2 separate regions of the Homo sapiens genome follow, and region 2 is linked to region 1. Evidence: fine-mapped expression QTL. A gene starts in region 1. The other region holds a variant in brackets. All regions are shown on one strand. Distances are between the middles of the regions.

Region 1 (16,472 bases):
TGTATCTACTAAAAATAGAAAACATTAGCTGGGTATGGTGGCGGGCGCCTGTGGTCCCAGCTACTCAGGAGGCTGAGGCAGGAGAATGGCGTGAACTTGGGAGGCGGAGCTTGCAGTGAGCCGAGATCGCGCCACTGCACTCCCAGCCTGGGCAACAGAGCAAGACTCTGTCTCAAAAAAAAAAAAAAAAAAGAAAGAAATATGCTTTTCCGTGGGCATAGTGGTGCATGCCTGTAATCCCAGCTACTCGGGAGGCTGAGGCAGGAGAATCTCTTGAACCTGGAAGGTGGAGGTTGCCGTGAGCTGAGATTGCACCACTGCACTCCAGCCTGGGTGACAGAGTAAGACTCTGTCTCAAAAAAAAAAAAAAAAAAAAAAAAAGAAATGTGCTTTACTCAATTTTATATTTGTAATTGTTTTAGAAAGATATTTAGAAAAGTATCTTTCTCACTACATCTTCGAGTCATGCAGGCACTCTGAAGAGCTATACTGTGTTTACCTTGGTACCCCAGTGGTATATCAGGACAAGCCTGGGGGCAAAAGAAGTTCATGGATCCAAGTTCCAGAAAGATATTATAAAGAAACTGCAAATTAAGTTGTTCACAAGTCATCACCATAAGTTATCTTGTCGTAAGTGTATGTTTTATAGGCAAGTGGCATCATTTTTGCAGAAGATACCCTCAGCACTTTGTTGGCAACACATCAAGGAGGATATGTCTGTTGCCACAGGACATCCAGAGGGCCAGCTGTGTCTGCTTGTCTGACGTGGATCGTAGGAATGAAAAAACTAAAAAGAAAACATCACTCTTTGCTTAGAAGACTATAATTAAATATAATACTTAAGGTATCCCAAGTGAAGGGATCAAAAGCCCTGGACAAGAAGAACCTACTAACTGTGTTCCTAACCACAACCTCAGCATCTGCTGAGTTAGTTCTTGTTCTCATCTGCCACACACACTACTTGCCTGGTAATAGTATTTCTGCCACAGAAAGTGCAAAAGATTTGTTAAAACTCTGGACAGAAGTCTGAACTACACAGTCCCCAGCATCCTTTATCATCATCAACCAAGTGGCTATTCTTTCTTTGTTTTTGAGACAGGGTCTCACTCTGTCACCCAGGCTGGAATGCACTATAGCCTTGACCTCCTGGGCTCAAGCAATCTTCCTGCCTCAGCCTCCTGAGTAGCTGGGACTATACCATGCCTGGCTAATTTTTTTTTTTTGGTAGAGACTGGGTCTCCCTATGTTGCCAGCTATTCTGAAAAGGCGCCTAGAGACGTCCCTGACGCTGGTCACGGTAGAAGGGCTGCCAATACGCTTGGCCAAGAGGTGCTCCCTGCTGAGCAAGCACTGCATTGGACAGCAGTGGGTGCATGTGTGGAATTACTCAGGTGAGAGATTTCTGATGTCTTGCTTCAACTTACACAGGACTGAAGACTTAAGAGACTCAGCTGTGTGTTGCTCTGGTTGCATCTCTGTGAATGTCTGGTTGGCCCTTCCTTTTCTAGCCTGCAACTGCTATTCCCGCCTTGTCTGTGGGCCTAGAGCAGAGTGGCCTCGGGCCACTTCATCTGAGGCCTCATGGACCACCCAGGGTGTGACTGCCATGCAGACCGACCACAAAAGCCTTTCTCCAGGGGGAAATGGACGATGACAGTAACAAGCTGCTCTTTTAAAGCCAGGCAGCCCCTGGGAATGGGAAATCATATCTCCTGCTGTGGTTTGAATAGGTGTCCCTCCAAAAAATTCATGTTGAAATTTAATCCCCAATGTGGCAGTTTTGAGAGGTGGGGCCTTTAAGAAGTGGTTGAATCATGAGTGCTCTGCCCTCATAAACTGATGAATCCATTCACCAATTAATAGATGAATCGGTTATCATGGGAAGGGAATTGGTGGCTTTACAAGAGGAAAAGAGACTTGAGCTAGCATGTTATCATGCTCAGCCCCCTCACGATGGTCCTGCATCACCTTGGGATACTGCCAAGTCCCCACCAGCAAGAAGGCCCTCACCAGGTACAGCTCCTGGACTTTGGACTTCTCAGTCTCCATAACTGTAAGAACTAAATTCCTTTTGTTTAATAAACTACCGAGTTTCAGGTATTCTGTTATAAGCAACAGAAAATGGACTAAAACACCTCCTAAGGCTCCCCAAACTTTAAAATGAAGGAAGCAGTCATGCTTGTGCAACTGCAGCTGCTGGTGTGGAATCACCTAGAAATTCTTCCTCCATGGAGACAGCCTATTAGCTAAGGAAAAAGAATCTATGGCCGTCAGAAGGCAGGGTGATTTAAGGTTAATGTCTTGCCACTTCGGAGTTCCTCCCGTTGGATGGAATCGGGTTGACCAGTTTCTCTGCCTCTAACTGGCTATTTTATGGAAGGTCTGTTCATTCCCTGTTTCAAAGCAACAAGCGTAACAGCAGAACATCTAGGAGTCCTGTGCCAAGAGATTCCTTTTTCCCACATGATCTGCCAAGAAAGGAGAATTCCAACTTATGAGTCTCATTAACAAGGTGGAGAAATTTCTTCTTCGCTCCATTTCAAAAGCAAATAAACTTAAGTAATGAAAATGCTAAAAGCAGAAGGCTCTGGTGTTGTATTAGTCTGTTCTCATGCTGCTAATAAAGACATACCCGAGACTGGGTACTTTGTAAAGGGAGGAGGTTTAATGGACTCACAATGCCACATGGCTGGGGAGGCCTCACAATCATGGCAGAAGACAAAGGAAGAGCAAAGGAACATCTTACATGGTGGCAGGCAAGAGAGCATGTACAGGGGACTCCCATTTATAAAACCATATCTCACGAGATTTACTTCTCAGGGGAAAGATCTACCCCCATGATTCAATTACCTTTCATCGGGTCTTTCCTACAACACATGGGAATTATGACAGCTACAATTCACAATGAGATTTGGGTGGGGACACAGCCAAGCCATATCAGGTGTTGCATATCTTCATTGGTCAAATGCAGAATAAAGTCATGCATAAACTAAGGGCTTCAATGGGAAGCCTATATACCCCTACTTCTCTGTCATAGGATTTGAGGGCTTCAGCATGAAGGTACCAGCTGTCAGAGTACTCAGGTGATGCTCAGAGAGGGGAGATTGTCCTCTACTAGATTTCTTTCTGGGGCCTTTGTTTCTTCCAGGAATCCCAGCAACAGTCATTTCACTCATCCTATTTTTACACCTTGGAGTCAAATAATGAGGAAGTACACTGCTCTCTAGTTCAGAGAGGGCAGCTCTGAGCCCTTACAGTTTTGCAATGAGCTAGGAAACAAACCCTGGCTTCCTGATTTTGCAGTTCATTTATCTCAAGCACCAAATGTCCAATTACTAATATTTACACAGGGATTTCTGACAGCAGGTGTATAGGAAGTGATAAGCCCAGGATGAAGCCTGAGCCAAGAAGAACTCTTCAGAGAGCAGCTGAGAGTCCACGAGTAACATGGAGAACCAGAACCACCGAAGCCCAGCCATGAGGAGGCTGGGTTAGACCCTGGCTCCCTGGGTCACCAGCTGTGCCCTCTGGACAGCTTATCTGTTTATCCATTTCCTCAGCTGAGAAATGAATTTGAAAATACTCACCTAACTCTTTAGTGGGACCTTGTAAGAATCAAATGACATAGTGGACAGAAAAGTAGTTTGAAAGGAAGAACATAACAATAGGAATGTAACAAGTTACACAAATCAACAGAACTCAGATCAACTATAAAAAAAGACATTTTGAGGAAAATTGGGAAATGCTTAAATATAGACTGCTATTTGGCATTAGATGATACCAAATATTTTTTTTTTAGTTTTCTTAGGTCTAAATATGGCATCATAGTTATGTAAAATCTTTAGAAATCACACTGAAATATGTAGCAATGAAATGACATGATGTATAGGATTTGCTTTAAACTACTTCAATGACAGAAACAAAGGGACAGATGACGTACATGTGGCAAAATAACTGTTGAAATTCAGTGAGAAGCTTATGAGGCATCATTATACCCTTCTCTCTACTTTTTTTGCATACTTGAAATTTTTTGAGAATAAAAAATAAACAATGTAGTGTTTTCTGGGACTCAACACCTTCGCTGATGGTCATGTCTATCTAGAGCACAGAAAATCTGTTTCCTTCACAAAGCCCTTCCACACTGGCCATCTAGAGGTCAAAGGACAAGGACTTGGGAAGAGGCCAGGAGAGGCCAGTTGGAAAGAAAATAAAAGGAAGCATCTTTGCAGAATCTCCTATCTGTGATACTTAAAATGTCAGCCAATGTGTGGTGTTAAGTACGTTTTGTTTTCAGACCTGAGTTTCATACTCAACTTTGCCACTCAATGCCTAAGTGACCTTAGACTAAGTCACTTTCTAACACAAAGTTACAGGGAAGCAAATGCACATGCATGCACAAACACACATATACATATACACACGTGCACACATGCGTGCACACACATACACACAAGTGCACAAACGCGCACACACACATACACATGCAAACATGCACACAAACACAAATACACATATACACATACAGGTGTGCACACATGCACACAGGAATACATATGCACACACATTGCGTGCACACACACGTGCCCGCGCACACACACCTGTGTGCGCATATAAACACACACCGGTGCACACACATACACAAACACACTCGTGTGGAGACACACACATGCACACATACATGTGCCCACACATACACGTGCACACATGCATACACAAACGTGCGCGCGTGCACACACAGATTAGTGAGACTCAATTTCCTTGGGGAGAGCCTTGGTAGCCACTGGGGCCCATGGGGAGCACGCATCTTGTCATGGCTCTGGTGGCCATTCCAGGGCAGATACTAGGGACCAGGAAGAGGAACGGGACAAAGGTGAGGAGAAAGATTAAAAATTTAGTCAAGTTAGGATCCAGTGAGTCAGTCACTTATCTGGGAACTGACCAGGGAAATGAACTCTTCCTCTTCCACCCTAAACCCCAACCCTGACCATTAAGTACATGATACACCATCAATAACTAATTCATTCCACCAAAGATGACAAATGTTGTTTTGGGGTTCCAGGACGGACAGGCTAGCAGTGGTGTAGGGGAGGGGCCTGGAGTAAGAGGTATGGGTTTCAGTCCCCACATTGACTAACTCAGTGACCGTGAGCCTCAGCGTTTTTCTTCCTCTGGGAGAAAAAAAAAAAAAGTATTGTTTTTGAGATCTCTGCAGTTTCAAGATCTTAGGGACGAAACTAATTTGGAGCATGTTTCTGTCATGCACATCTCTCCCCTCATCAGGACTTGGGGTTTCCTAACCATATTGAGTAGTTCAGCCCCCTCCCTCGCCGTGTTCTGCGGTGTTCTCTTCCTCACACCCTCGCCCCGCTCCGCCCCGCACTCCGGCTGTTTTTTGATGGTCTTAGCTCGGGCACGGAGAGGAGGGAACCTCGCTTGTTCTCCCAATCATCTCTATTCCAGCGCTGATTCCTGGGACACCTCGAGCAGGCAGCCACACCCAGAGGGCTTCCAAATTTGGGCTGGTGAGAAGGGGCGCGGTGGGCAAAGCGCCTGCGTAAAAGTTGTAGGCACTTCAGACCACCGGACCAACGGCTCAAGATTGGGATCAGCTGTAGCCGTGGGTTCGCTCGTGCCCGTTCTTTCCAACTCCAGGGCTTCTAGGTGATGAAGGCGGGAGAGGGTCCCTGGTCCCCGGAGAGGCAGGGCGACTTGGGAGTGCATACCTGGCGTGCCGAGAGCGCCTCTGCTCCCGCAGGACTCACGGCGCTCCCGCGCTCCCAACAGCCTTTCGAGCAGGCTGGGGGTTGAACCGGGTTCAAGCAGTGGACGCTACAGCTCCCGGGCGCAGCCCCCGGGGTCCCCGCCCCCACTCCGTCCCAGCCCAGCACGCTCTACATCCCCAAAACCACAGCCCCGAGGGCAGTCACTGTCTCCCGACCCGTCCCCCGCGTGCCCCACTCCTCAAAGCCAGAATTCCGGAGACGCTGTCCCTGGAGCCACGCTGCACTCTCCAAGACGCCCAGCACACACCGAGACTTGACGGGCTCTGTCCCGCCTGATTACGGGCGCTCGGGACGATCCAGGGACCCAGCGCCTCGCTCCCCGGGCGCGCCAGCAGCCGCGCCGCGCCCGGCCCGTACGAGGTGGGGTTGGGCGGGGCCGCCCGGGGCGGCAGGAGGACCCGTTAGCCTGCACGTCCTCGCATCGCTCCCCGCAAGAAGTCTTTGGGAACCCCCAGGCACTGTCGAGAGGCAGCCCCGCGCAGGACGAAGCCTGGAGACCCCATAGGGACGCTCCCGCTTTCTCGCGAACCGCTTCGGGGAGGGGGTGGCGCGGGAAGCGCTCTTACTTGGTTTCAGGGATCCGCAGTGGCCGGGCTGGGACCGCGCTCTCCACGGTGGTCCCCCTCCGCTTCCGCCGCCGCTGAGCCCCTTTCTCGAGCAGAGGGGGCGGCTCTGGTCTCCGATGGCTGGAGAAAGCAAGCACCAAGCGTAGGTAGCCGCGCGCTGGAGTCGCGCGTTTACTCTTTTCCCCCTTACTTTTAACTAGAGGAGGATGGCAAACCCCTCCCCGGACCCACCCCCTTCCCCGAAGGCGGCCGCCGCAGCAGGCCCGGCCTCCGGCCTCTTTTGTTGTAATTCGAGAGCGGCCACTCCCAGGGCCAGAGGGAGCTCCGCGGGGGAGGCCAAGGCCTGCGGGGCAGCCCTTCCCAGGCTCCTCGCGCCCGGGTTTCCGGAGCCTGAGATGCCGGGAAGGGGGCCTTTCCTCGGGAGATTCCTCTACCCTTTCCTCCCTGCAGCCGTCCCAGAATTTAACCCTTCGATGTCCTTATCCACCAGCCTTAGGGCCCGTGCCTTGTCCACCTCCTATCCCGAAAACCCTGGCCCTCCTTGGCACATAATACACGCTCAATTAAAGCTGCCGAATGAAAGTGTTCAGAAACTTGCACCCATCTCGCCTGGGTTTCACCTCCCTTTTCCTGTAGGGGGAAAACCGATCCTGAACCAGTAAATAAACAGCCCCCTTTCGGCCAGCAGATCACGTCTATGGCCTTGGCCAAGCCTCTTCTCCGAGGACTAGTTTTCTTCTTTGTAAATTCAACGCTTTGGATTCCGTGACCTCTGGGGTCCTTCCTGGAATGGTAGGGCTGGGATTAACAAGCCCTGTGCTTGGGGACTGAACAGGACACAGCTAATGCGTGGCCATTGTGCAGAAGGACCTCCTGTGCCTGGCTCTGAGGCTCCGGGTGGGGGATGGGCATGCTGGGAGAGCCCTCTGCACAGAGAGGGCTCCTTAAGCAAGAGCAGGGCTTTGCCAGTCCCAAGGAGGCAGCGAGCTGCAAAACAAGGGACCCCTGTGCAGAAGTAGACTGTCACCTGAAAGGCGGCTCCTTCCTCAGTCCTCTCTTACTCCACTCCCTGAGGAGACAAACCCCTCCCAAATCTCACCTCCAGCCCAGGCTTCTCTCCTAAGCCATGGATATTTAAATCCATTGGCCCCGAAAGACTTTCACCTGGACATTCCCATGGCCGTAGCTAACCTGGCAAGCCCCAAACTTGGCACTGCAACTCACGGTCCACCTTGACTCCTGTGAGCTCTCCCAGGCAGATATGGGGTCTTCTCCGTTGCCTCCTCCTTACCCTCCCCACTGATCAGTCCCTGACTCTGGTGGGCAGTAGAGGGCAAGGGTCAGAGGAAGGGGGTGTAGTTATCAAAGGCAGGAGGAGGGATCTTTGTGGTGGTGGAACTATTCAGTGTCTTGAGATACAGAAAACCACACAGGTGATAAAATTGTATAGAACGTAATACACCCAATAAAATTTCAATTAAAAATTTAAAAAAATCCTCCGTGGCTCCAAGGTCCTCAAAATGTAATCTGAATCCTGGCTGGGTGCGGTGGCTCATGCCTGTAATCCCAGCACTTTGGGAGGCCGAGGCAGGCGGATCACAAGGTCAGGAGATCGAGACCATCCTGGCTAACATGGTGAAACCCCGTCTCTACTAAAAATACAAAAAATTAGCCGGGCGTGGTGGCGGGCGCCTGTAGTCCCAGCTACTCGGGAAGCTGAGGCAGGAGAATGGGGTGAACCCGGGAGGCGGAGCTTGCAGTGAGCCGAGATCCCGCCACTGCACTCCAGCCTCGGGGACAGAGCGAGACTCCGTCTCAGAAAAAGAAAAATGTAATCTGAATCCCTTGATTAAGCTGACAGGGCCTCTGGGGCATTTCCAGCCTGCCCAACTGCCAACCACATCTCACCTCTCCCCCTGGGCCTTACTTTCTGTGCTCCTATAAGCCTTCTATTTCACACCCCAGGACCTTTGAACGTGACATTCCCTTGGCTTCTCTGCACAGTAATGCCTGGTTATTGAGCTTTCACTCAGCTGTCACACCCTACACAGTGCCTGGACGTACCAGATGCTCAATAAATGCTGGTGAAACTGAGCTCTCCCCTTTCCCCATCTCCCATCCTTCCACTTCTAGTCCTACCCTCTCTTGCTAAAGCATTCACTAATAAGGTAGAAAATGAAAGGAGACCAACTTTGTAAATAATCTTTTGTCTGTTATAAAGAAAAGCAAACTTCTTGTGAAATATTCAGAAAATATGTAAAATGTAAGGAAGAAATTGTCACTCTGGTGTCTTATCACCCATAAACACCTACTGTTTGGAGTCTTTCCTTCAGAATATTTGTTCAACCAAATTGTAGTTACAGTTTTTGTATCCTGATTTTTTTTTTTTTTTTTTTTTGAGACAGACTCTAGCTCTGACTCCCAAGCTGGAGTTCAGTGGCGCAGTCTCGGCTCACTGCAACCTCCCCCTCCCAGGTTCAGCTTCCCAAGTCTGTCTCAGCCTCCCGAGTAGCTGGGATTACAGGCATGTGCCATCACGTGTGGCTAATTTTTGTATTTTTAGTAGAGACAGGGTTTCACCATGCTGGCCGGGCTGTCCTTGAACTCCTGGTTTCAAGTGATCCACCCACCTCTGCCTCCCAAAGTGCTGGGATTACAGACGTGAGCCACTTCACCTGGCCTCTGATTTTTTTTACTATATCATTTTGTGTTAATTTTTCAATGTAATTTTTAATGGTTTTAGACAGTTCTGGTCTGAAATTATTGTGCAATGGAGTCATTTCTCCATTATTGGATATTCAGTTGTTTACAGCTTTTTGCTAGTGTAAATTACGCCATGACAATTACCCCTGTGAAAGTAATATTTATTGATTGGGTACAGTGTGGTTCCTGCTAATTGTTACAGATGAGAAAGCCCTGGCTCAGAGAAGTGATTTTCCCAGCGTCACAGAGGCAGGGAATGGCCGAGCTGGGAGAACCAAAAGGAGCTTGACTCGTCCAGCAAGTATTAGTGGCCCACACTGGAGGCCTCAGTAAGTCCATCTCTGCCTTACCATGTCCTCACTTCCAAGAGGAAATGAGTAGAGTATCTGAAGTTTGCACTGAGTGTTTTATTGATGCCCTTTTGTTGAATTGAAATCAAGACCTAGGAGACTACTTCAGGACAACAGTAGACCCTTGTCCCAGATGAAACAAAATGATGGCGGGATGCCTTATGTCTGTAAGTCTGGATACACCTCCCACCCTGCCACCTCCACCACTCAGGTCCTGCACTGCTGCAGAGGCAGAGTCGTACAGTAGGTTCAGGGCATGCTTGTGCAGTCAGGGGGCCTGGGTTCAAATCTTGGCTCCACCATTAACTGATGTGAACTCCCTTTTCCTTCACATGCTTCATCTGTAAGAAGCGCCTCAAAATGCTCCTAAGAGGTTGAGTGGAGTGGCTTAAGCTTGTAATCTCAGCACTGTGGGAGGCCAAGGTGGGTGGGTTGCTTGAGTCCAGGAGTTTGAGACCAGCCTGGGCAACATGGCAAAACCCTGTCTCTACAAAAAATATAAAAATTAGCCAGGCGTGGTGGTATGGGCTTGTAGTCCTAGCTACTTGGGGCGCTGAGGCAGGAGGATCACTTGAGCCCAGGAAGTCAAGGCTGCATTTGAACTGAGATCATGCCACTGCACTCCAGCCCGGGTGACAAAGCGGTATCTGTTAAAAAAAAAAAAAAAGCTCCAAAGGAGTAAAAGGACTGAATGGGCTCAGACTCAGAACAGTCCCTCGTATGGTACTTGGACAATAAATGTTGCGTTGTGAGGAGGGCATCTTTGAGGAGGGCACAGTGACTCCTTGTCCCTCAGGGCTTCAGACCCCACACAGGGAGAGGGAAGGCAACACCTCCTGTCCACCCCATCCCCAGGGGTCATGTGAATTACTGCATTAGGATCCATTCCCAGAATGTGATTACTGAGTCAAAGGCTAGAGGCGATTCTTTCTTTTTTTTCCCTTGGCTTTTGCACTCTCTTGCCAAATCACTCTCCTACCAGTCTGGACCGACTTAGATTGAAAGAAGCATAGCATGTCCCAGTAGGCATAGCCTGAGGCTCCAGGGAGGCCCAGCCAATGCTGTAGCCGGTCTGTGCCTTCATGGTGCTTATATGCCAGAGTAGGAGACTGACAAGACACAAAGACACAGAAATGAGGAAATGTGGGAGTCGGTTGGTGACAGAGTGCTACAGAGAAGACTAAAGCTGGTGAGCACAGAAGGTGAAGGAGGCTCAGGTGCTAGTCCAGTAGGGGTGGCCAGGGAAGGCCCGTCTGATGAAGTGGGAAAGTAGGAATAATTTTAGTAGGTATTAGTAATGATTACTTAGATGAATAAAAATGCAGAAACGAGTAGTTAAATTTATAGAACTGCAGAAGAGGCTCCATATGGTCTATTTGTTGAATTAAATGGGGAACCAATCAACCAACCAAACAAACATTGATCCAGCCATCTGGGAAGGTGATTTGGAAATATTGTCACGTGCCGCATAATGCCATTTCAGTCAATGATGGTCCAGGTATATGTTGGTGGTCCCGTATCACTTGGTGGTCTCATAATGTTATAATAGAGCTGAAAAATTTCTCTCTCCTATTGACGCCATAGCTGTTGTGACATTGTCATGCAATAAATTATTCATGTGTTTGTAGTGATGCTGGTGTAAACAACATACAAGCTGCCAGTCATATGACAGTCTAGCACATGTCACTACGTATAGTACATAATAATTGATAATGATAATAAATCACTATGGTACTGGCTTATATATTTACTATACTATACTTTTAATTGTTATTTTAGGGTGTACTTTTACTTATTAAAAAAAAAAAAAAGCTGTCCGGGTGCAGTGGCTCATGCCTGTTATCCCATCACTTTGGGAGGCCAAGGCAAGCGGATGACCTGTGGTCAGGAGTTCGAGACCAGCCTGGCCAATACGGTGAAACCCTGTCTCTACTAAAAAATATAAAAATTAGCCCAGGCATGGTGGCGGGCGCCTGTAATCCCAGTTACTTGGGAGGCTGAGGTGGGAGAATCACTTGAACCCGGGAGGTGGAGGTTGTAGTGAGACGAGATTGTGCCACTGCACTCCAGCCTGGGTGACAGAGTGAGACTCCATCTCAAAAAAAAAAAAAACAAAAAAAAACAAGCCTAACTGTAAAACATCCTCAGTCAGGTGCTTCAGGAAGTATCCAGAAGAAGGCATTGTTATCCTAGGAGATGACAGCTCCATGTCTGTTAACGCCCCTGAAGACCTTCCTGGACCAAGATGTGGAGGTGGAGGACTGACATTGATGATCCTGACCCTGTGCGGGCCTAGGCTAATGTGCGTGTTTGTGTCTTCGTCTTTAACAAAAAAGTTTACAACACAGACAAAAGTAAATAATTTTTAAAATAGAAAAAAAGCTTACAGAATACTAAAGAAATTTAAAAATTTGGTACAGCTGTACAAAGTGTTTGTGTTTGAAGCTAAGTGTTATTACAAGAGTCAAAAAATGTTTTAAAAACTAAAAAGTTTATAAAGTAAAAGAGTTACAGTAAGCTCAGGCTAATTTATTATTGAAAAAATAAGTATTATGTATAAATTGAGTGTAGCCTAAGTGTGCAGTGTTTATAAAGCCCACAGCAGTGTACAGTGTACATTCACTCACCACGCACTCCCTGACTCAGCCAAAGCAACTTCCAGTCCTGCAAGCTCCCTTCATGGGAAATGCCTTCCCTAAACCGGTCTATCTTTTTTGTTTGTTCTTTGTTTTTTGTTTTTGAGACGGAGTCTGGCTCTGTTGCCCAGGCTGCAGTGACGCGATCTTCGCTCACTGCAAGCTCCATCTCCCAGGTTCACCCCATTCTCCTGTCTCAGCCTCCGGAGTAGCTGGGACTACAGGCGCCCGCCACCACGTCCGGCTAATTTTTAGTATTTTTAGTAGAGACGAGGTTTCACCGTGTTAGCCAGGATGGTCTCGATCTCCTGACTTCGTGATCCGCCCACCTCGGCCTCCCAAAATGCTGGGATTACAGGCGTGAGCCACCGTGCCTGGCCTTATCATTTTTTTAAATTGTATCTTTTCTATGTTTAGATATGTTTAGATACCCAAATACTTACCACTGTGTTACAAATGCCTGCAGTATTCAGAACAGTCATATGCTATACAAATCTGTAGTGCAGGAGCAACAGTCTATCCCATATACCCTAGGAGTGTAGTAAGCTATATCACCTAGGGTTGCATAAGTACATTCTGTGATGTTTGCACAATGACAAAATCGCCTAATGACGAATTTTTCAGAATGTATTTCCTCGTGTCATTAAGCAATTAACGTTGGTATATGTCAAGGGGTGGGTGTTCGATCTGGCCTTGGGAAGGGGATGGTCACATAGATCACATATTCCAGTGTTCCTGTGTTGGCCAGATATCTATCAGGTCCTATGATGTGGCTTCCGTGTTTCTCATCATTCCAAATCTGAGCATTCTGTCACAACCACTTTTGATGAGTGTGGTTTCATCAGAGGAGAGAATGCGGAGGAGGAGGAGAACTCCCGCCTCCTCCGAGGAAGCAGCGCCCCTTAGTGGTCTGTCTCTCACACGGCAATGTGCGCTTGCTCTCTTCAGGGCCAAGCTATACCAATGGGGTTGAAACCCTAAAATTCTAGAGATTTAAAGGGTTAAGATCTAAAGAGCCGCCAGGTAACTTGAGAAATTGTGCTCCAAGCATCTTGTTTACAGACATGGAACCAGAGGCCCAGAGAGCTGTCAACCCGAGCACCTTCCCTAGGAGGCTTTAGCAGGGGTGCTGAGACCAGACCCAGACCAAGTCAGCTAAGCCCCAGGAGAGTTCCAAATCTGCTCAGAAAGTACAATTGTAAATTGCATATGTATGCAATCAGGAGTGGTTAGGACGCATCTGCCTTTTTCCCAGGAAACACAACGTTTTTACATTGAAAAGTGTAATTTCATTTAATCTATTTTCTAGGATGTAAAATTATTCTGTCAACCACAGTGTGCTAACTTCATCCCTTTCCTTTTCTTTTGCTTACTTTATTATTATTATTGTTATTACATATATTTTTTAAGACAGAGTTTCACTCTTGTTGCCCAGGCTGGAGTGCAGTGATGCAATCTCGGCTCACTGAAACCTCCACCTCCTGGCTTCAAGCCATTCTCCTGCCTCAGCTTCCTGAGTAGCTGGGATTACAGGCGTGCGTCACCACGCTCAGCTAATTTGTGTGTGTGTGTGTGTGTGTGTGTGTGTGTGTGTGTGTGTGTGTGTGTATTTTTAGTAGACATGGGGTTTCACCATGTTGGTCAGGCTGGTCTCTAACTCCTGACCTCAAGTGATTGACCTGCCTCGGCCTCCCAAAGTGCTGGGATTACAAGCATGAGCCACTGCACCTGGCCTTCTTTTGCTTAATTTATTATTAATCATCATCATTAACAGCCTGTTTGAGAGTATGAAACAGTTTACTTGGAGGAGCTCAAAGCTTCTCATAGCTTTCTCTAATGAAGAAGGCTATGCAGGGCAGTCCTGTGTATTCAGCAAAGAAGGAAATTCAGTCTGGGAGGGAGAAGCATTCCATGAGACCAGGTTACATGACTAACTTGCCCTTTCCATCACCCGCTTGAGTTGGGAGTGACTCAATCCCTCCAACAACTTCCTGTGCTTGGAGCCCATTTGGGGTCCAGTTCAGGGTGATGTCACTCAGTGCCTCCCCTGCTTTGAAGTGGGACCAGGATCAGTACAACTCAAGCAGCCTGGGAAGGTCCTAGTCATAATAATAATAAAAAAAGTGTGCTTTCCTCTCCTGGGGATTAACATATCTGAAATCTTGCAATTAGAAATTAGTTCCTTTGAGTGAACTACCAATACATGCAACACTGTTTTAGTCCATTTTCTGTTGCTATAACAGAATACCACAGACTTGGTAATTTAAAATGAACAGAAATATATTTGACTCATGGTTCTGGAGGCTGGGAAGTCCAAGGGCATGGCACTTGGAAGGGAGAGCAAGCAAGAGAGCAAGAGGGGGCCAGAGTCCCCTTTACAAAAAGCCCACTCTTGAAATAACATTAATTCATTCATGAGGACAGAGCTGTCATGACCTAGTCACCTCTTATCAGACCCCAACACCCAGCTCTGATGCACTGGGGGTTAAGTTTCCAACACATGAACTCTGGCGGACACATTCAAACCATAGCAAACAGTATGGTTGAATCTCAAACATATCAGGATGCCTGCCCCCAACTCTGACATGCACAAAAAAGCCAGCCACAAAAAGGAGACATACTGTATGATCCAGTCATAACTCTAGAAAACTCTAGAAAAGTCTAAACTAAACAGCAGGGACTGAAAGCAGATCACTGGTGGCCTGAGGCTGGAGGTGGGTGAGGTGGCCTGGGAAGGAGCATGAGGAAGCTTTCTGTAGTGATGGAAATGGCCTATTCCTTGATTGTGGTGGTGTTTATATTAGCATATGTGTTTGTCCCAAACTCATGAAACTGAACACTTAAAATGGGTGACTTTATTTTAGGTAAATTACTCCATAATAAAGTTGATTTTAAAAATTAGTCCCTTGGGTGCCCCTTTTCTATCCTCTTTCAAAATGAAAAGTTTGGTCCAGGCTTGATGGCTCATGCCTGTATGTAATCCCAGCACTTTGGGAGGCTGAGATGGGAGGATAGCTTGATCCCAGGAGGTGAAGACTGCAGTGAACTATGATGATGCCATTGCACTCCAGCCTGGGCAACGTAGCAAGATCCTATCTCTAAATAAATAAATGAAATAGGCTGGGTGCGGTGGCTCACGCCTGTAATCCCAGCACTTTGGGAGGCCGAGATGGGCGGATCACGAGGTCAGGAGATCAAGACCATCCTGGCTAACACGGTGAAACCCCATTTCTACTAAAAATACAAAACATTAGCCAGGCATGTTGGCGGGCACCTGTAGACCCAGCTACTCCAGAGGCTGAGGCAGGAGAATTGCGTGAACCCGGGAGGCGGAGCTTGCAGTGAGCCAAGATCGCGTCACTGCACTCCAGCCTGGGTGACAGAGCCAGACTCTGTCTCAAAAAAAAAAAAAAAAAAAAAAAGAAATAAAATAAAATGAAAAGTTTGGGGAAGAGTAATGCGGGGTAATATGTGGTTTAGAGTATAGTAGCTGGAGCAACACTGCCTGGGTTTGAATCGCAGCTCCACCACTTACTAACCATAACTGAGCAAGTTATTTAACTTCACTGGGCCTCAGTTTTCTCACCTGTAAAATAGGGAGGGACCTCATAGGATTCTTGTAAGGCTGAAATGAATGTATGCGTGTGAAGTGCTCAGAGCCCAATGCCTGGCAGACAGCAAGTGCCACTCAGTTTGAAACTAATTTACATGGACGTGACTTGTTAGCTTCAAATTGACAGCTTTTTTCTAGTTATGATTCTTTAAAAATTTTAAGAGCAGTTTTAGATTTACAGAAAAAAATAAACAGAAAATGTAGAGAGCTCCCATATGCCCCTCATACACAGTGAGTTTCCTCTACTATTTTCATCTTGCATTTCGGTGGCACATTTATCACAATTGATGAGCCAGTATGGACACATTATTATTAACTGAAGTCCGCAGTTTACATTAGGGCTTATTCTTTGTGTTGTACATTCAATGGGTTTTCACAAATGTATCCATCATTGCAGCATCATGCAGAATGGTTTCATTGCCCTAAAAATTCCCTGTGTTCCACCTTTTTACCCCTCCCTTCCCCATAATCCCTGGCAACCACGGATCTTTTCACCGTCTCCATAGTTTTGCCGACTCCAGAGTGTCCCATAGTTGGAGTCATACAGTATGTAGACTCTCCAAGAGGGGTCTCTTTCACTTAATTATGTACATAATTATTTATTTATGTTTAGAGACAGGGTCTCACTATATTGCCCAGTGATGCTCCCACCTCAGCCTTCTGAAGTGCTTCGATTACAGGCGTGAGCCACTGCAACCGGTCTCACTTAGCGATAGACATTTAAGATTCCACGCCTGCTCATGGCCTGATAGCTCATTTTTCTTTTTCTTTTCTTTTTTCTTTCTTTTTTTTTTTTTTAGACAGAGTCTCAAGAGCAGTGG
Region 2 (16,472 bases), 63 kb after region 1:
ATCAATTATCTAAGTTTCCACCTTATGACATTAGAATAAGAAAGTGAATTAAACTCGAAGTGAATAGGAGGAAAAAAATAATAAAAAATAATATGAGACATTAACCAACTTACAAGTTGGTTCTTTGAAAATATTAACAAAATTGCTAAACTCCTAGTGAGATTGAGCAGGACAAAAAAACACGAATAACAAATATCAAGCATAAAAGAGGAAGATCCCTACAGATATACAGAAATTGAAAATATAATAAGAAAACATTATGAATAACTTTATGCTGATCATTTCGATAATTTACATTAAATGGAAAAAGTCTTTGAAAAATACAACTTCCCAAAACTGGCACAGGAAGAAATAGAACATTTGAATCACCCCATATCTTTAAGGTCCTAAAAAGAAAATTCCAGAGCAAGATGGCTTCACTAGTAAATGTTTATCAATCATTTAAGAAAGGTAATATTGATTTTATATAAACTCTTTTGAAAGAACAAAGGAAGAGAGAACACTTTTTAATTTATAATTCAGAATAATCCTGATACCAAGAAATAAAAAGGAAAGAAAATCACACACCTATATTTCTTACATAGGTGCAAAAATTTTAACAAAATATTGGCCAATCAAGGTCAGGTGTAATGACTCATGTCTGTAATCCCAGCACTTTGGGAGGCCGAGGCAGGTGGCTCACCTGAGGTCAGGAGTTTGAGACCAGCCTGGCCAACATGGTGAAACCCCATCTCTACTAAAAATACAAAAATTAGCCAGGCAAGGTGGTGGGCACCTTTAATCCCAGCTACTCAGGAGGGTAAGACAGGAGAATTGCTTGAACCTGGGAGGTGGAGGTTGCAGTGAGCTGAGATTGCGCCACTGCACCCAGCCTGGGTGACAGAGTGAGACTCCATCTCAAAAAAACAAAAACAAAAACAAAATTGGCAAATCAAATCCAGCGACATCTGAAAGAGCAAGATAGCATTACCAGGTGGGATTCTTTTTTGAGGAATGCAAAATTGGCTCAACATTTGAAAATCAATCAATGTCATTCACTACATAAACAGAATAAAGAAGAAAATTCATATGATTCGTATGATCTCAGTCAATGCAAAAAAAAATTTGGCAAAATTCAACACCCATTCATAATTTTGAAAAAAAGCCTTTATCAACTATAAAGGGTATGATTTTCCTCAGCTTGATGGAGCATCTACAAAGAATACAGCTATCATGGTTGTAAAATCAAAGTAACTCATTTTGTGCATGGGACTTTAAAAGTGTTAAATGAAATATTGAACAAATATGTGATACCTGGAGATACATGACCATTTTGCAACCATGGGACAACAGTCATCCTGATAAGAGCCAACAATAAATACGATGGAACTGAAAGATAGAACTGTTTGGGTCCATGATGGCATCATTAAACCGCTGAACTAGTACCAGTGACTGTGTCTACCCCCTGACTTCTTATTAGGAGAGAAAAATAAGCTCTTTATTTGTTTAAATTTCTTTTGGTTGGATATTCCATTACTTGTTGTTAGGTCTTTAAAAATATTTGTTGACTGGTTGGGTGACTTGCTCAAGGTTATAAAACTAAATGGGAGACAGGATGACTTAATGTAAAAAGTACCAAGCCGGGAGGCAGGAAACCTGAATCCTTATCCTCAATAGACTGTGTAAGCTTAGAAATTGTAGTTTGCCTTACTGGTCCTCACCATCCATATATAATTTGTAAAAGGAAAGGGGTTTGTGGAGATGGCTAAGCTGACCTTTAACGTTCTTTCCAGGTCTAAAATCTATGATTTCTAAGAGGCAAAAGAGAAGACTAGAAGTAAGATTTTCCCTTTCTCTCTTCTCCTTTCCCTCCCTGCTGTGGTCTGAATGTGCCGCCCAGTTTTCATGTGTTGAAACGTAATGACCAATGTGATTAGCATTAAGGGGTTCTGCCTCTCAGCATTAATTAAGTCATGAGGGTGGAGCCCTCATGGGTAGGATTAGAGACCTTATAAAAGGGCTTGAGGAAACGTGTTTACTCTCTTCTGCTCTTCTGCCCTGTAAGTACTTAGCACTCAACCCCTTTCTGTCTTTCCATACCTTCTGTCAGATGAGGATACCTATATAGCTCAATCTTTGAGGAACAGGTTTTTACCAGATAGAAAATGTGCTTTGGACTTCCCAGCCTCCAGAACTGTGAGAAAATATATTTCTGTCCTTTATAAATTATCCAGTCTGTGGTACTTTGTTATAGTGGCACAAATGAACTAAGACAGTCTCTTCTTCTCCCTCTTTTTTTCCGTCCTTCTCTTTCTTCTTCTTCTTCTTTTTTTTTTTTTTTTTTGAGATGGAGTCTAGCTCTCTCACCCAGGCTGGAGTGCAATGGCACATTCTCAGCTTACTGCAAGCTCACCTCCTGGGTTCACGCCATTCTCCTGCCTCAGCCTCCCGAGTAGCTGAGACTGCAGGAACCCACCACCAGGCCCGGCTAATTTTTTTGTATTTTTAGTAGAGACGGGGTTTCACCATGTTAGCCAGGATGGTCTCGATCTCCTGACCTCGTGATCCGCCCGCCTTGGCCTCACAAAGTGCTGGGATTACAGGTGTGAGCCACCATGCCCGGCCTCTTTCTTCTTAAGAAACAAAACATAAGGACCAGGCACAGGGGCTCATGCCTATAATCCCAGCACTTTGGGAGGTGAAAGTGGGAGGATTGCTCGAGCCCAGGAGTTTGAGGCTGCAGTGAGCTGTGATCGCACCACTGCACTCCATCCTGGGTGACAGAGCAAGATCCTGTCTCCAAAGAAAACTTAAAAAAAAAAAAATCAAACATAAGATAGAAGACCTCTTTCCTTCTCTTGTTGAACTTGAGATTTCTTTGTAACAGTGTATATGGGAATGTTGATGAATGGAGTAGGGCAGATGAACAACCATCAATATCTAAAACCCAATTATGATTTCTCTTTAATTATCTTTCTAGAAAACCCTCTAACATGGCAATTGCTTGAAATTCTGCTCTCCAAATGTTTTAATCCATCATTCCAAGGAAGCTAAATTGGCTCACCTGTCCCTCCTGGCTGTGTGTGGGTGTTTGGGGAAGGTAACCATGCTAGATGTCAGGAAACAAAGGAATCCTGCAGCGCTTGGAAATGGGGAGTTCTCTTACTCTTCCTTGGACCTGTTTGCTTTCCAAGACATTCATGCACAGACTATTTTTGAGTGGCTTGGCTAATAATCCTATATATTTACACAGCCTTTGTCTTCAGGAAATCATGTCACTTTACAGGCATGGTCTCATTTATGAGCCCAGCATTCCTAAGGCAAAGGGATTTTTATTTCATGGTGTTTTGTTGTGGAGAGAAAGAGAAAGTGACTTGTTCAAAGCAACATCAAAATCCAGGGTTTCCTCCAAATTTTTTTAAAAATTATTTATTTATTTATTTTTTGAGACCAAGTTTCACTCTTGTTGTCCAGGCTGGAGTGCAATGGCGCGATCTTGGCTCACCATAACCTCTGCCTTCTGGGTTCAAGCGATTCTCCTGCCTCAGCCTCCCGAGTAGCTGGGATTACAGGCATGCGCCACCACGCTGGGCTAATTGTTATGTATTTTTAGTAGAGACGGGGTTTCTCTATGTTGGTCAGGCTGGTTTCGAACTCCCGACCTCAGGTGATCTG[T/C]CCGCCTTGGCCTCCCAAAGTGCTTGGATTACAGGCGTGAGCCACAACGTCTGGCCCTAAATCCTGGGTTTACTCCAAACTTTTCTCATCAAAGCAGAGTGATCAAACTGTACCATAAAGGAGTCACATGGGAGATGGGTAATTGAACACACAAACACATGCACACACACACACACACACAAAACACACACACACGTAGGCAGCAGACATAGTTGCTTTTGCTGCTCGGGCCCCATCACTCTAGTTTTGGTAACAGTACCTCAGATTTCTGAAGGAATATACTCAGGTCATATTTGGTCCATTTGGGTCAGAAATTATGACCCTGGCCTGGTTAAGCAAGGTAATTTTGTCTCCTGATCATGATGACTGGCACGAGTCAATGTTGTTCTGATTAGATAAAAGCTCCATTTTTCAATATCAGCTTCATCTGTGATAAAGATGATACTTTGGTTTGTAAACCCAGAAAATCAGAGACAAGTCTCAGTTAATTTAGAAAGTTTATTTTGCCAAGGTTGAGGATGTGCGCCCATGGCACAGCCTCAGGAAATCCTGACGCCATGTGCCCAAGGTGGCTGGGGCACCGCTTCATTTTATACATTTTAGGGAGACATGAGACATCAATCAATATATGTAAGACATACATTGGTTCCATCCAGAAAGGTGGGGACAACTCAAAGCAAGGAGGGGTCTTCCAGATCACTGGTAGGTGAGAGAAAAGGGGTTGCATTCTTTTGAGTTTCTGATAAGCCTTTCTAAAGGAGGCAATCAGAATATGCCTCTATGTCAGTGAGCAGAGGGATGACTTTGAGTAGAATGGGAGGCAGGTTTGCCCTGAGCAGTTTCCAGCTTGAATTTTCCCTTTGGCTTAGTGATTTTGGGGCCCCAAGATATTTTCCTTTCACAGGTTTTCATATAGTTTTTGTTTCATTTCTAAAATTATTCAGACTTAAGCAGGAAGCAGTGGGTAGTTTATTGGACACCTTAAACCTCTCTCTGTTCCTTTCTCACACCAGATAACATACCATTCTTCCTCTCACCATCCTTCCCTACTGCACCATCACCTTTAAGTTAAGGTTGAAATTCCTGAGCAAATCAACTGCAAATCGATGAGGTGACCAGATGTCATGGACAGGATGGCTTCACACTAGTCTCCTTGGCATGACACCCCAAGGCCATGGTTAAGTTGCTTTCAACTTTTAAGCCTGATGTCCAGACACTTCCCTATATATATTTTCGCTGTGTTCTAACATGTTTAATGGACTATTTGCTTGTTTCCCAATTGTGCCTTCTTTTCTTTTCTTTTCTTTTTTTTTTTTTTTGAGATGGAGTTTCACTCTTGTTGCTCAGGCTGGAGTGCAGTGGTGTGATCTCGGCTCACTGCAACCTCTGCCTCCCGGGTTCAAGCAATTCTTCTGCCTCAGCCTCCCGAGCAGCTGGGACTACAGGCACGTGCCACCATGCCTGGCTAATTTTTGTATTTTTAGTAGAGATGGGGTTTCACTATGTTGGTCAGGCTGGTCTCGAACTCCTGACCTCATGATCCGATCAGTGCAGGGCTTTTCTAAGTGCCAGCCATCTGTGACTGACTGCACAGGTCCCACGCCCTAGAAGCAGCTCTGTAGCTACCCCAGGAAAATGTAGCCCTATGGCCTTGACTGTAGAAGCCTCTGCTGTTGCCCAAGGCTGTGGGCTGGCCTGAGCAGCTGGGAGGATGAGTGGGGAGTGTGGGGCTTCAGGACAGAGCTTGAGCCTTGATACTTGCCTGACTTTCAGTCTTACAGAAACCACAGTATTACAGACTTTTCCATGTTGTTGTTACAAAGATATATAGATTTAATATATAGATTTAAAAATAAATGCAAAAAAGTAAAAATTAGAGGGGCTATAACATTTGATTTACTAGTTTATCTGAATTTATCATTTTAAACATCTTAAAACATGGGTGTGTCCTCTTAGCCCTGACCCTCCAAATGTTTGTGGCAATCCCAGAGTGGAGAACGCAGAAGGAATGAATAAACCTCCTGGAAGAGGTGGCATGAGATGTGACTGAAGACACAAAGAGAACGATAAATGTGAAGAGGAGGAAGGATTCCTCTTTTGTTAAAAAAAATTGTGGTAAAATACACATAACATAAAATTTACCATCTTAAATTTATTTATTTATTTATTTATTTATTTAGAGACAGAGTCTCTGTCACCCAGGCTGGAGTACAGTGGTACAATAGTAGCTCACTGTAACCTCAAACTCCTGGGCTCAAATGATCCTCATGCTCCAACCTCCCAAAGTGCTGGGATTACAGGCGTGAGCCACCGCACCCTGCCCATCTTGATCATTTTTAAGTGTACACTTCAGTAATGTTATGTGTATACATATTATTGTGCCACCAATCTCCAGAAGTTTTTCATCTTGCAAAACTGAAACTCTGTACCTGCTAAACGACTCCCCATTCCTCTCTCTTCATCCCCCGGCAACCCTCAGTCTGCTTTCTGCCTATAAATTTGACTACTCTGGATACCTTATATATGTGGAACTCTACAGCATTGGTCTTTTTGTGACTGGCTTATTTCAATTAGCATAAAGTTCTCAAGGTTCATCTGTGTTGCAGCATGCGTTGGAATGTCTTTCCTCTTTAAGACCAAATAATATTCCACTGTATGGATATACTGCATTTTATTTACCTATTCATCTGTTGATGGACACTGGGTAGCCTCCACCTTTGAGTATTGTGAATAATGCCACTATGAATATGGGTATACAAATGTGTCTTTGGGACTCTGCTTTTAATCCTTTGGATGTATACCCAGAAATGGGGAATGTCTTAGTCCATTTTGTGTTGCTCTAACAGAATACCACAAACTGGGTAATTTATAATGAAATTTAGATTTTAAAAGAAACAAATTTATGGCCGGGCGAGGTGGCTCATACCTATAATCTCAGCACTTTGGGAGGCTGAGGCAGGCGGATCACTTGAGGTCAGAGGTTCGAGACCAGCCTGGCCAACATGGCGAAACCCTTTCTCTACTAAAAATATAAAAATTAGCTGGGCATGGCGACACACACCTGTAGTCCCAGCTACTCAGGAGGCCGAGGTGGGAGAATCGCTGGAATCCAAGAGGCGGAGGTTGCAGTGAGCCAGATCGCACCACTGCACTCCAGCCTGGGTGACAGAGCAAGACTCTGTCCCAAAAAAAAAAAAAAAAAAAAAAAAAGAAGGAAAGAAAAAATGTATTATCTCATGATCCTAGAGACTGGGAGGTCTAAGACCAAGGGGCTGGCAGCAGGGACATCACATGGGCAGCAATCACAGATCACAGAGACACAGAGCACAGAAGGCTGGAGACTGGTTGGAGTTGGGGCAGTGGGAGGGAAGGGTGGGCTGTTTCATGTGCTGGATTTGGAAGAACAAGTAGAAATAACCAGACACAAAGTTCCAATTGTAATGACAATGCATGAAGTCCTCAACCTGGACTTCCAAGAACTGAACCATTAGTCACTTATGAGACATTGGGCAAGTTATTACTTTTTTTTTTTTTTTTTTTTTTGAGACAGAGTCTCACTCTGTCACCCAGCTGGAGTGCAGTGGCACAATCTTGGCTCACTGCAACCTCCATCTCCCACATTCAAGCAATTCTCCTGCGTCAGCCTCCCAAGTAGCTGGGATTACAGGTGTGTACCACTACACGCCGCTAATTTTTGTATTTTTAGTAGAGATGGGGTTTCACCACGTTGGCCAGGCTAGTCTCAAACTCCTGACCTCAAATGATCCACCCGCCTTGGCCTCCCAAAGTGCTGGGATTACAGGCATGAGCCACTGTGCCTGGCCATGTTATTACTTTTTTAAGCTCCCATTTTCTCAATGGTAAATGGAGATAGCATTATCCACCTGTTTGGATTGCTGTGAGAATTAAATGAAATAATCCAAATGAAGTGCTAAGTACAAAGCTTGATATGTAATAAGAATTGATACAAAGTCCACTGTGAATCATTATTAAACCGCGCCTCCTAATATGATAGTGGATGGTAAGTCAAGGGAGAATAACACATCTCTATAAATGCCCTTCCTAATCAAACTATGCTACTTGTTGGACAATTAATGTACATTGCTAACGAGTCTCTCTTTCACTCATGTCATTTGCTCCATAGTTGTTTGGTGATCCAAATGTTCTTCATGTCTGTACCATCCTAAAGGTGTCTTCAGATTCGAATCCAGTGGTCAGGGGCTGTGCCTACCTGGGTTTCCTCTTACTTGGCCTAGAGCCCAGGACAGCTCCGGTAGCTGCAGTTTCAGAAAGCACTTTAGAAATGAACAAGCTCACCCTGTAATCCTAGCACTTTGGGAGGCTGAGGCTGGTGGATCACCTGAGGTCAGGAGTTTAAGACCAGCCTGGTCAACATGGTGAAACCCCATCTCTACTAAAAAATACAAAAATTAGCCAGGCGTGATGGTGGCTGCCTGTAATCCCAGCTCGAGCAGCTGAGATGGAAGAATTGCTTGAACCCGGGAGGCGGAGGTTGCAGTGAGCCAAGATCATGCCATTGCACTGCAGCTTGGACGACAGAGGGAGACTCTGTCTCAAAAACAAAACAAACAAACAAAAAAGAAACGAACAAGCTCAGAGTCTCCTTGTCCACTAAGGGAGATGGAGGGCAGTGTATGTGGCTTGCCCCACACCGACAGCAGCATAAAAACGATGATGAGCAAGGCAGCACGTCTGCTTTCTTTTTTTTTTTTTTTTTTTTTTTTGAGACAGAGTCTTGCTCTGTCGCCCAGGCTGGAGTGCAGTGGCGCGATCTTGGCTCACTGCAAGCTCCGCCTCCCGGGTTCATGCCATTCTCCTGCCTCAGCTTCCCGAGTAGCTGGAACTGCAGGCGCCTGCCACCACACCTGGCTAACTTTTTGTATTTTTAGTAGAGACAGGGTTTCACCATGTCAGCCAGGATGGTCTCGATCTCCTGACCTCATAATCCACCCGCCTCGGCCTCCCAAAGTGCTGGGATTACAGGCGTGAGCCACCATGCCCGGCCAACACATCTGCTTTCATAGTTATCCTCTCAGCAGCTGGGGGACAGGCAGAGACAGGAGTTACTGTCTTTCAGGGCCATGCTTAGTCAGTCCTATGAAAGTTTCCCAGATACACATACACAGAGGGTGTCAGTTCAGGCTCAAAGGTGGCCTCCCAAAGCTGACCACCCCCTGGGAGTGACCTGTGTGTACAGCTGGCTTCCTGCTCCCCTGCTGGGGAAGAGGCTGTTGTTTGTTGTGTTTCTAAACAATGCTTTCAGGGCCGGCTTCCTCAGTGAGGAGTCCACTGCATCGTGACTTGGATCAAGAGGTCTGTGTTTTCTTTCTGCCCTATGCTTTAATATAATTATCATAACTGAAAAGGTAATGTAAGAAAGTTAATTAGAATATTAACTATACTCTAACAAAACAACTTGCTTGTTTTTTTTTTTTTTTTGGTATGTCACTGGCCACCTGAATAGATCACTTTACATTTTTGCCATTGTGGCATACTTCAATCTACAAGGGCAGTGAATGTATTTATTTTGGTGCCCTTTCATTACTTGGTGCTTGGTGCAATACTTGATACATAGCATGTGGCCAACAAATGATTATTGAATAAATATTTTTTTTTTTTGAGACAGAGTCTCGCTCTGTTGCCCAGGCTGGAGTGCAGTGGCATGATCTTGCCTCACTGCAACCTCTGCTGGCCAGGGTTCAAGTGATTCTCATGCCTTGGCCTCCTGAGTAGCTGGGATTACAGGCACTCGCCACCTTGCCTGGCTAATTTTTGTATTTTTAATAGAGATGGGGTTTCACCATGTTGGCCAGACTGGTCTCGAACTCCTAGCCTCAAGTGATCTGCCCACCTTGGCCTCCCAAAGTGCTCAGATTACAGGCATGAGCCACGGTGCCTGGCCTGAATGCTATTTTTTAATACACTGCTTTCATTGAGTGTAATAGGAACATTTCCCTATGCTTCTAGAGTAAAAACAATTATAATTTTTAATGTTTCCGTACCAGCAGAGAATCATAATTTATTAAAGGTTTCATTTAGTTTGAATTTTGACTGTTTCCTTTGCTGTTTTTACTATTGTAGATAATATTATCATAAAAATTTGCATGCACATTTTTTAGAACCTTTGAAATTAAGTGCCTTAGAATGAATTCCCAAGAATGGAATTACTGCATTTGGGAGGTGTGGACAATTTTATGATTCAGTGTGTGTTTCTCAAGGGTTTGCCCTCTCTACAGAACATATTCACGGGATATGTTCTAGTTAACCATAAAAGGCACAGAGGCCATTTCCAAAGGCCCCTAGCTGAGATCTCTTTGAAGGGTCTGAAGACATTCATTGGAGCACTAGCGGCCATCTCCGTTAGGTGGAACAGAGTAGATCTTCTGGTTTCTGAGTAATAAAGTAGATTATTAACAGAAATGATGCCTTTCCTCTTAGGTCCTGAAGCAAAATCCAAAAATGTGGCCTACCATAATGCAAAGTCTCTGAGAGGCAGCATAGCTCCAGGCAGTTCGTGCTTTGATGTTAAATGAAACTGTGTGATCGTAAAGCCTAAGTGAGACCTCTATTAATAGCTTTGATTGCTTCTCTAACAAACTGTCACAAACTTAGTGGCTTAAAACAATGCAAGTTTATTACCCTACAGTTAGGTTGACATGGGCCTAAAAGGGTCTCACCAGCCACAAGGCTGCATACCCTTCTGGAGGCTGTAGCGGGAATCTGCTTCCTTGCCACTTCCAACTTCCAGAGACCACCCTTGCCACTTCCAAATTCCAGAGATCGTTGCTTGGTTGCTGTTTGGGCCTCTTCCTCCATCTTCACAGTCAGCAAAGGTCAACTCTCTCTTCCCAAAGCCTGGAAAGTCTCTCCGATGTTAAAGGACTCACGTGATTACATTGGGCTCACCTGGGTAATCCAAGCTAATCTCCCATTTCAAGGTCCTTAACCTTAATCAATCTGTAAAATCCCCTTTGTTATGTAAGGTAATGTATTATAGGATCCAAGGATTAGGTCAGGGACGTGCGTGGGAGTGAGAGAGGTGGAGAGAGGGATTATTTTGGCTACTACAAGACCTAAAATGGGAATATATTTCTTTAATTAAAAATATATGCATCCTAAGAAAGACATAATAGACTTCGGGGACTCAGGGGGAAAGGATAGGAAGGGAGTAAGGGATAAAAGACTATAAATTGGGTTGAGTTAGACTGCTTGGGAGATGGGTGCGTCAAAATTTCACAAATCACCACTAAAGAACTTACTCATTTTACCAAATAGCACCTATTCCCCCAAAACCTATAGAAATAAAAAATTAAAAATGTATATATATGCACCCATGGAACATATAACATTATTTATCCACTTATATAACAAGTGACTAAATTGGGTGAGTCAAGTATTAAAATGAGCTCAGAGAACTCTTCATCCCCTGGAGGCATTCAGAGAAAGCTCTCTGGGATACCGTGCAGCCTGGCTGTCCATAACCTGTGACCCCAGGGCCAGGCCTGCCTCCCTTCTTCAAGCTCGGCACAACTGCCTGCTACTGTGGGAAGGTGGGGCTAGGGCAGAGGCATGACCTGGCATGGCGTCAGGCAGAGAGAGGGGATGAGAGTAGGAGCGAGGCCCTCAAGGTGGACCTGCTTAGAATGTCTCTGGTTCCTAGGCTCTGTGTGCAGAGCTTCCTTTTGCAAGGACATCTTCCTCCTTGGTGGGCCTCATCCATCCGCCTCCCCAGAGTATTGGATTTTTCTCGCCTAGATCTTGTATTTAGCAAAAGTTCCCCTAGAGAGGCTGCGTGATGAATGATCCTGCCACAGTTGTAGTGTGTGTGTGTGTGTGTGTGTGTGTGTGTGTGTGTGTCTGTGTGTCTGTGTGTCTGTGTCTGTGTGTCTTGGAGTTGCAAGACTTGGTTAGCTGAGGCTTTTGTTTTTCACTTGTGACTAACATGAATGGAAGTGTAATACAAACAAGGATAAGGAGAGCATCTCTCCCAGAAGCCTGGAAGTTAAGGGTGTGGGTGGAGAGAAGCCACTGAGCTCCGGAATATGGAACTGAGCGCAACACAGGCAGCAAGTGGCTTTCTTTTGGGATGCTATGATGGGCTCTGACCTGGGATTCAGGACCCACTGCATTTGACTCTGAATCCCAGCTCTTCGCGAATCATGAACGCATGTTGGCACCAGATCCTCTTTGAGCCCTCCAGTGAAGCCTCGGACTCACCACTAGATGGCGTCCGAGCTCGCGCTCTCCACCGCGGGGCAGCAAGGCGGCAGGAAGCGGTCCAGAGGTGCCTCAGTGGCCAGGGACAGGGAGGTGACAAGAGTCGCCTCCATCAGACACGGCCACTCCCACCCCTGGTTTTGCCTGATTCCATTGGAGTATCCATCAAGACTAAACTAGAAAGTTTTTGCTTCTCCATTCCCTGGGTCCAATCCTAGGGAAAATGTGGTCCTTTTGTTTCTGGGGACTCCCAAAAGGAAACGTGCACCTTCTCCAGTAAAAACTAATTTGTTTTGTAATTTATTTTGTTTATTTGTTTATAGGAAAAGGAGAGGCATACTAAATTGGGCTTGAGTTTTGGCTCTTACTTTCTAGGCAAAGTCCTCTCCGGGCCTCAATTTCTAGTTTATGAAATGAAACTAGAAATCCATCCCTGCCTCATGAAACTGCCTGAGTAAAATGCAGTAATGCTGTGTCATGTGTGTGGCACAGTTTCTGGCACTTAGTAGGCGCTTTATATCTTACTTCTATTCTAGGTGAATTGGAGCTCTATTTATTCACCTTTACATGTTCTTGTCTATCACAGCGCCTGACATCCTCCATGCAGAGGAACAAACTCACTAATGGAATTTGCAAACATTGATCTTCATCAACTATTCTATTACTGAAACACCAAATTTTGTGGAGGATTCAGAAGATTATATTACAAACTGTTGCCCACAGGGTCTAACAAAATAACTGGAGGAGACAAGATTAATGAAAACACATTTAACAGTGAACACAGAAGCTACTAAATGAAAAGTAATTAAAAATGTATGATCGGTCGTGCATGGTGGCTTATGCCTGTAACCCTAGCACTTTGGGAGGCCGAGGTGGGCAGATCATTTGAGGTCAGGAGTTCAAGACCAGCCTGGCGAACATGGTGAAATCCCATCTCTACTAAAAATACAAAAATTAGCTGGGTATGGTGGTGGGCACCTGTAATCTCAGCTACTAAGGAGGCTGAGGCTGGAGAATCACTTGAACCTGGAAGTGGAGGTTGCGGTGAGCCGAGATTGTACCATTGCACTCCAGCCTGGGCGACAGAGGGAGACTCTGTCTCAAAAAAATAAATTAAATAAAAATGTATGATATTGGCTGTTTATAACTAAGTTTATAGCTCCTCAAACAGAGCTCCGTTTCTTGAATTCTGACATTCAAGAGGCGAGTTGACATCTGGATTATTTGTTGATCATAGGCTGTATGTCAGATCCTAGAAGTTTTTATGGGAAGAAGAGGATGAATTTTGCAACGGGGATATTATTATGTCTAGAAAGCAAGCCTGGGAGCCGGTAGACCTCATGAGAGCTTCGAGCTTCCAAGTATGAAATAGAGGTGCCTGGAGACAGGAAAAAGGAGCCCCAAAAAGGAGGCGAAAGGACACTGAAGACAAAGTTAGCTACTGCACCATTCGGTGAATGATTTCTTCCTCATTCAGAGTGTGAATAACTCATATAATTATAATCTGGAAGCTACCTTAAACGTGTTGTGGCTTGATCTTGCACTCAATATAGGAGACTTTATATCGTATCTTTGACTAAAGGCATCCAAATCACAGCTTAAACACTTTCAGGGATGGGAATTCATTCCCTCGGAAGAAAGCCCGTTTCTTCATTAGACAGTTCTAGTTGTCATCATTCACCCCAAATTTCCTCTAGCTCCCCTTAAGGGTGCTAGTTCTGTGAGTTTCATCCCTCTCCCAGAGGTCAGTTCTTCAAATAGCCAAGAACTGCCATTGTATCTTCCTTAGCTTTTTCTCTCCAAATGTCCCCGCTGCCTACAAATATTTGTCAAGCGGCCCCTTGCCCCTCGTAGACCACGCTGTTTGGAGCAAAAGGAGCTCAAGGGGGCATCTTCCCCCTTGGCTTCCCGGCTACGTCATGACATGGCACTAGATGGCGCTGTGACCACGGCCCCACCCAGGTATTCCAGGTACTCAAGAGTGACTTGAGGGTTTCCCTAAGAAGCCAGTGCCAACCTCATCTTGCCCCATATGCCTGTCTTCCTCAGTGACCACCAGAAGTCCAAATCCAGCCTCTGGAGGGACTCAGTATCACCTTCACTCTCGTTCCCGACCTCTGTGTCTGTCTGATGAGGGTATCTGATATTATGTCTATCCAGTACCCTGCACTCCTGCTTTTTTGAAACAGGGTCTCGCTCTGTCACCCAGGTTGGAGTGTAGTGGCACAGTCACTGCAGCCTCGATCTCCTGGGCTCAAGAGAGCCTCCTGCCATAGGCACGTGCCACCACGCCTGGCTAATATTTAATTTTTTTGGTAGAGACGGCGTCTCCCTATGTTGCCCAGGCTGGACTTCAACTCCTGGGCTCAAGCGATCCTCTGCCTTGGCCTCCCAAAGTGTTGGGATTACAGGTGTGAGCCACCATGCCTGGCCTGCCCTCCTCTTGATGTCAGCAAAGCAGTTTTCCTTTGAAGGGCCACTTCCCCGCTTGCCAACATGTGATTCTGGTGGGTTCTGCCCACCCAGAGTGGCCACTAGAGATGCAGCCTCACTAACCACCATGGATGGCTCAGGCTGAAATTTCCCTGGTGCCATAAGGGAGGTCCACACTCCCCAGGGTTGTTGGGCCACCATCTGCTGCTGCATGGGGAGAGGCTGCCTGGGAGTGTGGCCAACACAGAGGACAGCAAGGCAGGGAGACCAAAGGAGAGCCCCTGGAGGACATGGCTTGGGTCCCTGAGCTGATCAGCACTGAAGCCAGCAAGCAGCCCCACTACACTTCCAGTTATATGGACAAACACATTCTCTTCTCTTTTGCTAAATCTAGCTTGAGTTGGATTTCTGACATTTGAAAATGGAGAGTCCTAATATAATCCCTAACCTGACTTGATCTCCCACGCCTCCTCTGGGGTGGAGGGTTGCACATTTTTATAATCCCTAATCTGACTCGATCTCCCACGCCTCCTCTGGGGTGGAGGGTTGCACATTTTTATAATCCCTAACCTGACTCATTCTCCTACGCCTCCTCTGGGGTAGAGGGTTGTATATTGTATTGTCCTCTCTTGGAGCACTTACGGAGTGATCAGCACATTCTCTGGTATTCTTTTTTTCTTTAAAGAGACAAGGTCTCACCCTATTGCCCAGGGGGCAGTGCGATCATAGCTCACTGCAGTCTCGACCTCCTGGGCTCAAGCAATCCTTTTGTTTTAGCCTCCTGAGGAGCTGAGACTACAAGTGTGCACCCACCATGCCTGGCTAATTTTTAAATATTTTGTAGAGACAAGGGTTTCACCATGTTGCTTAAGTTGGTCTCGAACTCTTGGCCCTAAGTGATCCTCCCACCTCAGCCTCTCAAAGTGCTGGGATGACAGGCGTGAGCCACGTACCCGGCCGTGTAGTCTCTCTTTCCTGCTACCTGCTTTTGTTACCTGAAATCTGGCTCCTTCCTTCAGGACACTGGTTCCCCTGCAGCCCTCTCAGAAGGGTGGAGTTTTCCCCCTCACCTTCATGTACCTGAGGGCCAAGCTGCCGCCACCCGTCCTCCCTACTGTGCCTAACAGTCTACTGGCCACTGCCCCAGTGCTTACTGAAGACCTCAACTCAAGGCTCATTGACTCTGTCTGCCCAATCCTAGCCACTGTACCCAGCTATTTCAACATCCACATGGATGATTCTTCCAATGCCCTGGTCTCCATCACTTTAGCTGCCTTACACCTCATTATCACAGGTTTCCATGTCACAATATCCAAAATCTCAAGTTCAAGCATGCCACTCTGACCATCATCTTTTACGCTTACAGCTCACTGACTCTACCACCCACAGTGTCTTTGACCTTGAGACTGCCAATGTATGGGGTCCCTGTATTCTAGATTCTGTGATCCCTCGTCATAATTTCACATCCCTGAAAACACCCTAAATCCCTTTGTCTGTCTTTTCTTCCATTATACTCACCATACCATATTTTTTCTATTGTGACTTCTTTACACTGGGAGCTGTTTCTCAGATCCCTTCCTCTGAAAAGGTCAGAGTTAGATTTGGCCAACAGTGAAAACGTGCAAGATTTTGGAGTCAAGGTGAAACAGCAGCCATTATTCTGAAGGTTGCCATTGATTAGAGGTAGACACCCAGGCTGGTGTCTGTCATTGGTTAGGGGTAGACACAGGAGCACCAGAGATTCCAGGGTGCACTCCCTCTTTCCCTCGCTGGGACTCTCTTCCTAACTGCTGCTCTACTGACCAACAGTGACCTCAGGCCCATCTCCAGGTACTTTGATGTGAACTTGCAGAGCAGCAGCACTCTTCTATGAACTTTGACACCAGCCCCTTTTGCAGTCCGCTTTCAGCAACTGAATGTGGCTAGCTTCCACATAGCCTGCAGTTCCAAGCCGTTCTCCAGTGCAGGCCTGTTTGGTGGCTTTTCTCTGATCCTTCAGTTCCATATTTGGATTCTTACTTCCCTGGCTCCTCCTACAATTGTGTAAGTTCTAATTGCTAGAATAAGCTCCTTATTCCACAGTACTCACCTCATTCAATCTCAGTGATTTGCTTTTCTTTGAGCTTGCCCCAGATAGACTGAGTATT

Evidence for each region.
Region 2: its variant is fine-mapped to the expression of LOXL2 in whole blood (TOPMed, PIP above 0.99).

The regions. Positions count from the first base shown.
Region 1 is chr8:23,397,605-23,414,076 of GRCh38, forward strand. It overlaps LOXL2 (lysyl oxidase like 2), which reads right to left and starts at 6,516. Exons shown (of 14, transcript NM_002318.3): 1 at 6,350-6,516. RefSeq lists a silencer at 12,732-13,026 and an enhancer at 12,892-13,011.
Region 2 is chr8:23,460,624-23,477,095 of GRCh38, forward strand. All of the region lies in intron 2 of ENTPD4-DT (ENTPD4 divergent transcript), which reads left to right. Among named protein-coding and RNA genes, the nearest start is that of ENTPD4-DT, 11 kb to the left of the region's middle. RefSeq lists an enhancer at 8,605-9,104. The variant T/C (reference allele first, on the strand shown) is at 3,655.